2 separate regions of the Homo sapiens genome follow, and region 2 is linked to region 1. Evidence: fine-mapped expression QTL. Tissue or cell type: testis. Region 1 holds a variant in brackets; the other region holds the start of a gene. All regions are shown on one strand. Distances are between the middles of the regions.

Region 1 (4,239 bases):
GGACACAGCACATGTTTCAGAGAGCACAGGGTTGGGGGTAAGGTCACAGATCAACAGGATCCCAAGGCAGAAGAATTTTTCTTAGTACAGAACAAAATGAAAAGTCTCCCATGTCTACTTCTCCCTACACAGACACGGCAACCATCCGATTTCTCAATCTTTTCCCCACCTTTCCCCTCTTTCTATTCCGCAAAACCGCCATTGTCATCATGGCCCGTTCTCAATGAGCTGTTGGGTACACCTCCCAGACGGGGTGGTGGCCAGGCAGAGGGGCTCCTCACTTCCCAGCAGGGGCGGCCGGGCAGAGGCGCCCCTCACCTCCCAGACGGGGCGGCTGGCCGGGCGGGGGGCTGACCCCCCCACCTCCCTCCTGGATGGGGCAGCTGGCCGGGCGGGGGGCTGACCCCCCCACCTCCCTGCCAGATGGGGCGGCTGGCTGGGCGGGGGGCTGACCCCCCGACTTCCCTCCCGGATGGGGCGGCTGGCCTGGCGGGGGCTGACCCCCACCTCCCTCCCGGACGGGGTGGCTGCCGGGCAGAGACGCTCCTCACTTCCCAGACGGGGTGGCTGCCGGATGGAGGGGCTCCTCACTTCTCAGATGGGGCGGCTGCCGGGCAGAGGGACTCCTCACTTCTCAGACGGGGCGGCCGGGCAGAGACACTCCTCACCTCCCAGATGGGGTCGCGGCCGGGCAGAGGCGCTCCTCACATCCCAGACGGGGCGGCGGGTCAGAGGCGCTCCTCACATCCCAGACGGGGCAGCGGGGCAGAGGCGCTCCCCACATCTCAGACGATGGGCGGCGGGGCAGAGACGCTCCTCACTTCCTAGATGGGATGGCGGCGGGGAAGAGGCGCTCCTCACTTCCTAGATGGGATGGCAGCCAGGCAGAGACGCTCCTCACTTTCCAGACTGGGCAGCCAGGCAGAGGGGCTCCTCACATCCCAGAGGATGGGCGGCCAGGCAGAGACGCTCCTCACTTCCCAGACGGGGTGGCGGCCGGGCAGAGGCTGCAATCTCGGCTCTTTGGGAGGCCAAGGCAGGCGGCTGGGAGGTGGATGTTGTAGCGAGCCGAGATCACGCCACTGCACTCCAGCCTGGGCACCATTGAGCACTGAGCGAACGAGACTCCGTCTGCAATCCCGGCACCTCGGGAGGCCGAGGCTGGCGGATCACTGGCGGTTAGGAGCTGGAGACCAGCCCGGCCAACACAGCGAAACCCCGTCTCCACCAAAAAAATACGAAAACCAGTCAGGCGTGGCGGCGTGCGCCTGCAATCGCAGGCACTGGGCAGGCTGAGGCAGGAGAATCAGGCAGGGAGGTTGCAGTGAGCCCAGATGGCAGCAGTACAGTCCAGCTTCGGCTCGGCATCAGAGGGAGACCGTGGAAAGAGAGGGAGAGGGAGACCGTGGGGAGAGAGAGGGAGAGGGAGAGGGAGAGGGCGAGGTTTTCTTCTCCCTTCTCCTTGTCGCCGTGTGTTCCGGTGTCATGGCACCGGCCAGGTGGAAACCACATCTGCGGATCATTGGGAATGTTGGCCATGCTTCTCGAACCAGTTTTCTCTCACGGAGGACCTAGCCGTCGCGTGGGGCTAGAAAAGGTCCTGAAGCAACTGAAGATTTCTCGCCAGGGCTACACCCTGGTGTTATCTGAAGGCTTCTGGACTGACCCCGCCTCCAACTGCCCGGCTGGGTGTCCGCAACAGGATCTACAGCTGTCCTATCGCAAAATTTCCTCTTTCCCTATCCACAAATGCCATGTCTCCTATCCTCTCTGTGTATGCAGTGTTTGAGAATTTTTATAGTTCAGGGAAAGAGTCCCCAGAGTGTTCGAACCGTGCCTGAGCG[G/C]CCGCCGTCGTCTCCCGGCACCACTGGCCCTGCAGCAGCCAGTTGAGAAGGGCGGAGGCTGATTCCAATGAAGTGGCAGAACGTTAGGCGGCCTCTCCAAAAAGCCAGCTACGTCGCCGTTAGCCAAGGTTTGAGGGTCTTCTCCTTCTCTTCGAGGGCCCAACCTCCCCTCCAGATTTAGTACACCAGAGGCGTCGCAGCAACGGCTGCTGCCTGCGCGCCTCAGCTAGGCGGGCTCTGTTTTTGTTTTTTAAAGGATATTAGTCTCTTCCCTCATTTCTTGGATTACTTTCTTGGTTTCATTGTGTTGAGTTTTCAACCTTTTCTTGGATCTCATTGAGCTTGCTTGCAGTCCATACTCTGAATTATTTATCTGCCGTTTCTGAGTTTTTATTTGGTTAAGGTCTGTTGCTAGACAGCTAGTGTGACCCTTTGGTGATGTCACAACATTTAGATTTTTCATGGTGCCAGAATTTTTATGTTGGTTTCTTCTCATCTAGAGAGGCTACTGCTTTTTCTTTTTGAATTTATTTTCATTTAGATGGGCGTCCCCCCCACCTCCCGTTTCCACCTCTTCTAGGGGTGTAACTATAGCGTTAGTATGTTGGGTAGGGTCTTTTGGGTTCGCTTCTAAGGCCCTGCGCGATTCTGTCTGCAGGTTTTATATTGGTCTGTGCAGTTTGACCTGGAGGTCAGTAGGTGGCGCCTATGGGTAAGAGCCATTTGCCGCACAAGCAGATGGGTATATACTTGATTTTTATTTACTGTGATGAGACCTCTGTTGTTTCAGGTGATGAGCTGGACAGAGGAGTGCCTGGTGCCTTGAGGTTCTTGTTCAGGTTGGGGAGGGGGGACATAGCTGGGCAGAACTGGATTCCCTAGCTTGCCCATGAGTATCACAGTGACGAGCTCAAGCTCCAGCCCTGGTGGGGGTGACTCGGGGGAGCTCCTGGTGAGATGTGCCAAGGTCTCTGCAGGATTTGAGAGGGCTCCACTGGCTTGATGGATACCATTTCGACTCTAGATTACAAACATGGTGGCTTCCAGAGCACATCAGTTGGCCTATCTACACTCATTCCTTTTCTCCCCTAAGGAGAGATTTTAACGTTGATGGAAAACCTTGAAGGACATATTTTTATTCATTTTTGAAATTTTATTTTAGTTTTAAATATGGACTAGCTTTTATCTCATTGCGCAGGAACATAACATATTGTGTTGGATTTATTGGGGAAGTTAAATTTGAATTGGCTCTGCTATCTATGATTTGATTGAGAGAAAAAGTATAAACAAAGATAGCTGTAAGCTTTACCCTCGAAAATAGTTGTACCTAGTGATTAAAATTAGAGCAGTATTCAAATGAATAATAAAAAGATAAGTAACTCAATTAAAAATGGGAAAATAATCTGAATAGACATTACTCCAAAGAAGACATACAATTGGCCATTAAGTACTTAAAAAAGATTCTCAACATTATTAGTCATTAAGCAAATGCACACCAAAAACTACAGTGAGATACCACCATATCTCATGGACAAAAACAAGTATTGGCCAAGCTGTTAAGAAATTGGGAATCTAGTACATTATTGGTGGGAATATAAAATCACATAGCTGGCCGGGCATGGTGGCTCATGCTGGTAATCCAAGCACTCTGGGAGGCTGGGGTAGGAGGATTGCTTGAGCCTAGGAGTTCAAGACCAGCCTGGGCAAGATGGCAAGGCACCATTTCTACAAAAAATAAAAATTAAAAAAATCGGAAAAATCACACAGCCACTTTGGAAAACAGTCTAGTAGTTCTTCAAAATGTCAAACATAAAGTTACCACATAATGTAGCAATTCCACATACCATAATTTAGCATTCCATAGCAATGCTAGATATATAATTAAGAGAAATGAAAATACATGTCCACACAATAACTTGTTTGTTTTTTTTTTTTTCTGAGATGGAGTCTCACTCTGTCACCCAGGCTGGAGTGCAGTGGCACAATCTTGGCTCACTGCAACCTCCGCCTCCCGGGTTCAAGCAATTCTCCTGCCTCAGCCTCCCGAGTAGCTGGAATTACGGGTGTGCACCACCATGCCTGGCTAATTTTTGTATTTTTAGTAGAGATGGAGTTTTGCCATGTTGGCCAGGCTGGTCTTGAACTCCTGACCTCAAGTGATCTGCCCTCCTCGGCCTCCCAAAGTCCTGCTGGGATTACAGGAGTGAGCCACCATGCCTTGGCCAAGAACTTGTACATGAATGTTCATAACAGCATTATTCGTAATGGCCACAAAATGCAAATTATTCATATATTATCAACAAATGACTAACAAAATGTGGTATAGCTATACAATGGAATAATATTAGGTAATAAAAAGGAATAAAGTACTGTTACATGATACCACATGAATGAA
Region 2 (4,239 bases), 75 kb before region 1:
AAAATTTGAAGAGTTGAAATTCCAAAGGCAGAATAACAGCATATGGGAGAAGAAGCTACCAGTGAGATGGCTTCATGTCAAAAGGATGTGCTATCAATTCAGGAACCAATGAACTTTGAAAAACAGAACCATGCATGAGTAATACAGAGTAGAATCTGGACCTGGATAGGAATTCTAGCCTCAGAAAGTGAAACATAGGAGGAGGTAGGAGTGGGTTGGGGGTCTGGGAAGGAATGGAAACTTTCAAGGGTATTGGAATTAAACAAACTCTATGTCTCTTCTGGTCCATCTGATTCTAAGTGTTCAGAGCATGTGTTCTAAATAATAAAAGTATTATTATTATTATTATTTTTGAGACGGAGTTTCACTCTTTTCACCAGGCTGGAGTGCAATGGCACGATCTCGGCTCACGGCAACCTCCGCCTTCAGGGTTCAAGCAATTCTCCTGCTTCAGTCTCCTCAGTAGCTGGGATTACAGGCGCATACCACCATGCCCAGCTGCTTTTTGTATTTTTAGTAGAGACTGGGTTTCACCATGTTGGTAAGGCTGGTCTCGAACTTCTGACCTCGTGATCCGCTCGCCTCGGTCTCCCAAAGTGTTGGGATTACAGGCATGAGCCACTGCACCTGGAGCTTTTTTATTGAGTACCTGCACTGATGAATAAGATAGTGCCTCCTTCTAAGCAATTTACAGATTAGTGGGAACCCAGGAGGCGGAGGTTGCAGTGAGCCAAGATCGAGCCATTGCACTCCAGCCTGGGAGATGAGAGTGAAACTGTCTCTCAAAAAAAAAAAGTATTATTATTTAGAAATTGGGTCTTGCTATGTTGCTCAGGCTAGTCTCGAACTCCTAAACTCAAGTTAGCCTCCTTCCTCAGTCTCCCAGTGCTGTAATCCCATACAGGCGTGAGCCACCACACCTAGCCTGTGTCAGCTAGTTTTTTTAAAACAGCTTTACTAAGATATAATTTACATAATCATAAGTTCCACCTATTGTAAGTACACAATTCAAGGATTTTTAGACAATTCAGAGAGTTGAGCAACCATCACACGATCTAACCCATTTTTTCAATGTTTCTGCTGTAGAAACCATTTTATTATTCTAGTACAAAAGTACATGCCAAGCCATTAAAATTGTACAGCAAGTATTAAGGATGCAAAGTGACTCACTGAAAATGTATGTAATGGACTTGCACAGACAACTGCTCTACTGACACAGAAAGAAAGAGAGGGAGGGTGGCTAGAGCCAGTACAGTACAAAGCAATGGTTATCAGCTAGGCCCTAGAGTTAGACTGCTGGGGTTCAGATGCTGGCATCCCTACTTACTTAACTGCTGTCTGGCCTCAGGCATATTACTTGAACTCTCTGAGCCTCAGTTTACTCATCTGAAAGAGAACAGCACCCTACTTTATGGGGTTATGAAGAATAAATGAAATACTATATGCAAGAGGTTCAGTAGAGTCCTGGCACATAGTAAGGACTCAAGAACTATTAGCTGTTTTTACAGTTATCACTGGATGACTATTAAATAGCCTTTCATGAGCCAGACATGGAAGACCACATGCTCTAATTAAATTTATATGAAATTCTAGAGAAGGCAAATCGATGTTGATAGCAGATCAGTGATTGACAGAGGCTAGGGAGCGGAGGTAGGAAATTGACAGCAAAGGGTCACAGAAAACTTTTCAGGATGTTCTATATTATGACTGGGATGCTTTGTAAACACTTGTCACTGAATCACACATTTAACTTGGTGCATTTTTCTGTATGTAAAGTAAATCTGACCTCTCTCCCCCAAACTCTTAAAGATCTAGCTTTTAATTTTCCAGTTATTTTACATGTCAGAAGCAAGGTTCAGTTTCTAAACTCAGCCAACAAATATCTGTTGAGCACCTACGATGTGCAAGACACTGTTCTGGGTGTTGGGGATACAGTCTTGAAGAGGACAGATAGCATCCTACCCCCATGGAGTTTATAGTTCAAGCACGAATTATACACCTATGTTTGGAGTTACAAAATACAGGATGCTATGGGGAGAATACACTGTCCGGGTAGGGGGAAGTAGAGGAGTTCCAATATGTATAAATCTCTGTCCCGCGTTTTTTTCTATTTTTTGAACACAGAAGCAAGCAGAGTCCTTCCACCTACAGTCCAGGTGGGTGGTGTGTCAGAGGCCTCTCGGGGACCAGTGACCGTGACCCAAGGCTGCCCTCAGGCCACACCATCTGCGAGATGCGGTGGCCACCTGGCGAGGGAAAAGGACTGGCACCGGACCAAAGACCAGGTGGATGCTTCCACGGACCCCAGGTGGGGCGCTGCTTTGACCTTGGCTTCGTCATGCCCGCGCTCTCTAGCTTCTTTCCAGGTGTGCCCAGCCACCGCAGAGAACAGGCGGCAGGAAAGCTTAGGAAACCCTCCCAGAGGGCGTGCCAGACCGGGAAACTTTATCTGGGAGGTGACTCCACCCACTTGGGCGGGGCTGCCGCCCGCTGGGGGCCGGGCAAGTGGCCCGGCCAGCGGCGCGGCGTCCGGGGAGGAAATGGATGCTGTGCTGGCCTGCCGGCTCCGGGGGCGGGGAAATCGAGTAGCTGCACTCAGGCCCCGCCCGAGACCCGGAGGGAGCGCCGGGCCGTCCCCTTTTGCCCTCCTTTGCGCTGGGCTGAGCCCAGAGCCGAGAGCAGGAGTCGGCTCTGAGTTCCCTGCTTGGTTTTTGGGTGGCAGCAGCCAGAGGAGGAATATGGCGCTCTTAGGCAGCCGAGCGGAGCTGGAAGCGGACGAGGTACGATCCGATGGGGATTGCGGGCCCGGCCCCTGAAGCCCTGGACAGGAGTCCGGGAGAGAAGAGTGAGCCCGGCTAGGACGGCCGAGGCCCCGCCCCCTTGGTCCCCTCTCTGGGGTGGGCTGGCGGGCGCCGGGTGGGGGCGCCCGGCCTTGGTAGGTCTGTCCCCGCTGGAGCTAGGAGGGTCCCTGCGGCGCGCGGAGCGGACGCAGTGCCGAGGTTCGGAGCGCCGGCCCCGCGAGTCGTGGGGATGGAGGACCCACGTCCTGCCAGCACTTGGATGGGCGTGAGGGCGCGGGACCATAGGACCCGCAGCTCTGAGCTGTTCCGGGCCGGCCCAGCGACGCCTGGGCTTTACGAAGTCTGACCCTGAAGTCCTGGCACTGGCTCTCTGGGTGTTCGTGGAATCATCCCTCGACCTGGGAATCTCACCTTCTATGGAAGTTTCCTGGTGGCAGAACCGAAAGGCTTACGATTGATGAAAAGAGGGGGCAGCCTGAGGAACAATGAGTAGAGGGGTACCTGCCGCGACAGCAGGGCAGGGCTGCCAGGGGCTGGGGCTGGAGGGCTAGAGCCGCAGCCCAGGCTGTGGTGCTTCCCTCTCCCTCCACGGGGCCGGGACACTTCCCCTAGCAGGTCCTCAGAGTCGGTGGTGGCCGGAGGGAAACCACTTTGAGAACCGACTCCGGCCTCCTTTGGTTTCAACTGTGTTTGAGTAATTAGCCACTCCTTCAGTCGTGGCGCGCCCGGGCCTGAGCACCCAGGGGCTAGCGCGCCGGACCTGTTGATTTATTGACTATTCATTTCAGCACCTGGCAACTCCAGAGACAGCGCTCTCCCTGCTCTTGAAGTTGAGACCGAGGCTCCAGCAGCAGCCAGCACCCACAGCTGCTGTTCCTGCCATCTTACCTGACTTGAATTGTGCGAGTCGCTGCCTTTAGAAGGCTTTGGTTTCAAATGATGCAATAGTGGACGATCTGGAGGAGGCGGTTAAGTTTCCCGTCCATCTCTTTAGTGCCAGGAATCTCCTGACAAGGAAGACTATACTTTAAATGTGCTCCGTAAAATAAACAAAAAACAAAAACTGAACTACAGCTCCTCTGCATGACAGAGAGACAAGAGGGCAAGCCGGGCTGTCCAGACCCTTGCTTACAGCCTGTCCCTTGCATTGAGGATCCCAAGACTGTAGAATGAAATATTTGAATCCCGATCTGTTTGTAGGAGATTTGCTGTGCTTAGAACTATGTAATTCTCTAGATTAGGGCATTGTTGAGGCGGTGCTATTATTAATTAACACTGGGATAATAGGTGTAAACTGGGACTGTTTCGGAGATACTTTGACAAATGGTCACCCCAGCTATGCTCACTGCCTACTAGATGAACGGTTGAGATGCATTAGCCGATGAGGAGGGAAGTTAGGTTTCTGTGGGTGAAACTCTGGGTGGAAGTTAGGTTTCAG

Evidence for each region. PIP is the estimated chance that this variant, and not a neighbour inherited with it, causes the effect.
Region 2: TTC39B starts here. The variant in region 1 is fine-mapped to the expression of TTC39B in testis (GTEx, PIP above 0.99).

What each region holds. Positions count from the first base shown.
Region 1 is chr9:15,230,528-15,234,766 of GRCh38, reverse strand. The region is part of intron 2 of TTC39B (tetratricopeptide repeat domain 39B); the gene reads left to right. Among named protein-coding and RNA genes, the nearest start is that of TTC39B, 75 kb to the left of the region's middle. The variant G/C (reference allele first, on the strand shown) is at 1,845.
Region 2 is chr9:15,305,625-15,309,863 of GRCh38, reverse strand. TTC39B (tetratricopeptide repeat domain 39B) reads left to right here and starts at 2,648. Exons shown (of 20, transcript NM_152574.3): 1 at 2,648-2,780. The coding sequence starts at 2,739. RefSeq lists silencers at 2,394-2,733, 2,764-3,083 and enhancers at 2,321-2,883, 3,447-4,010.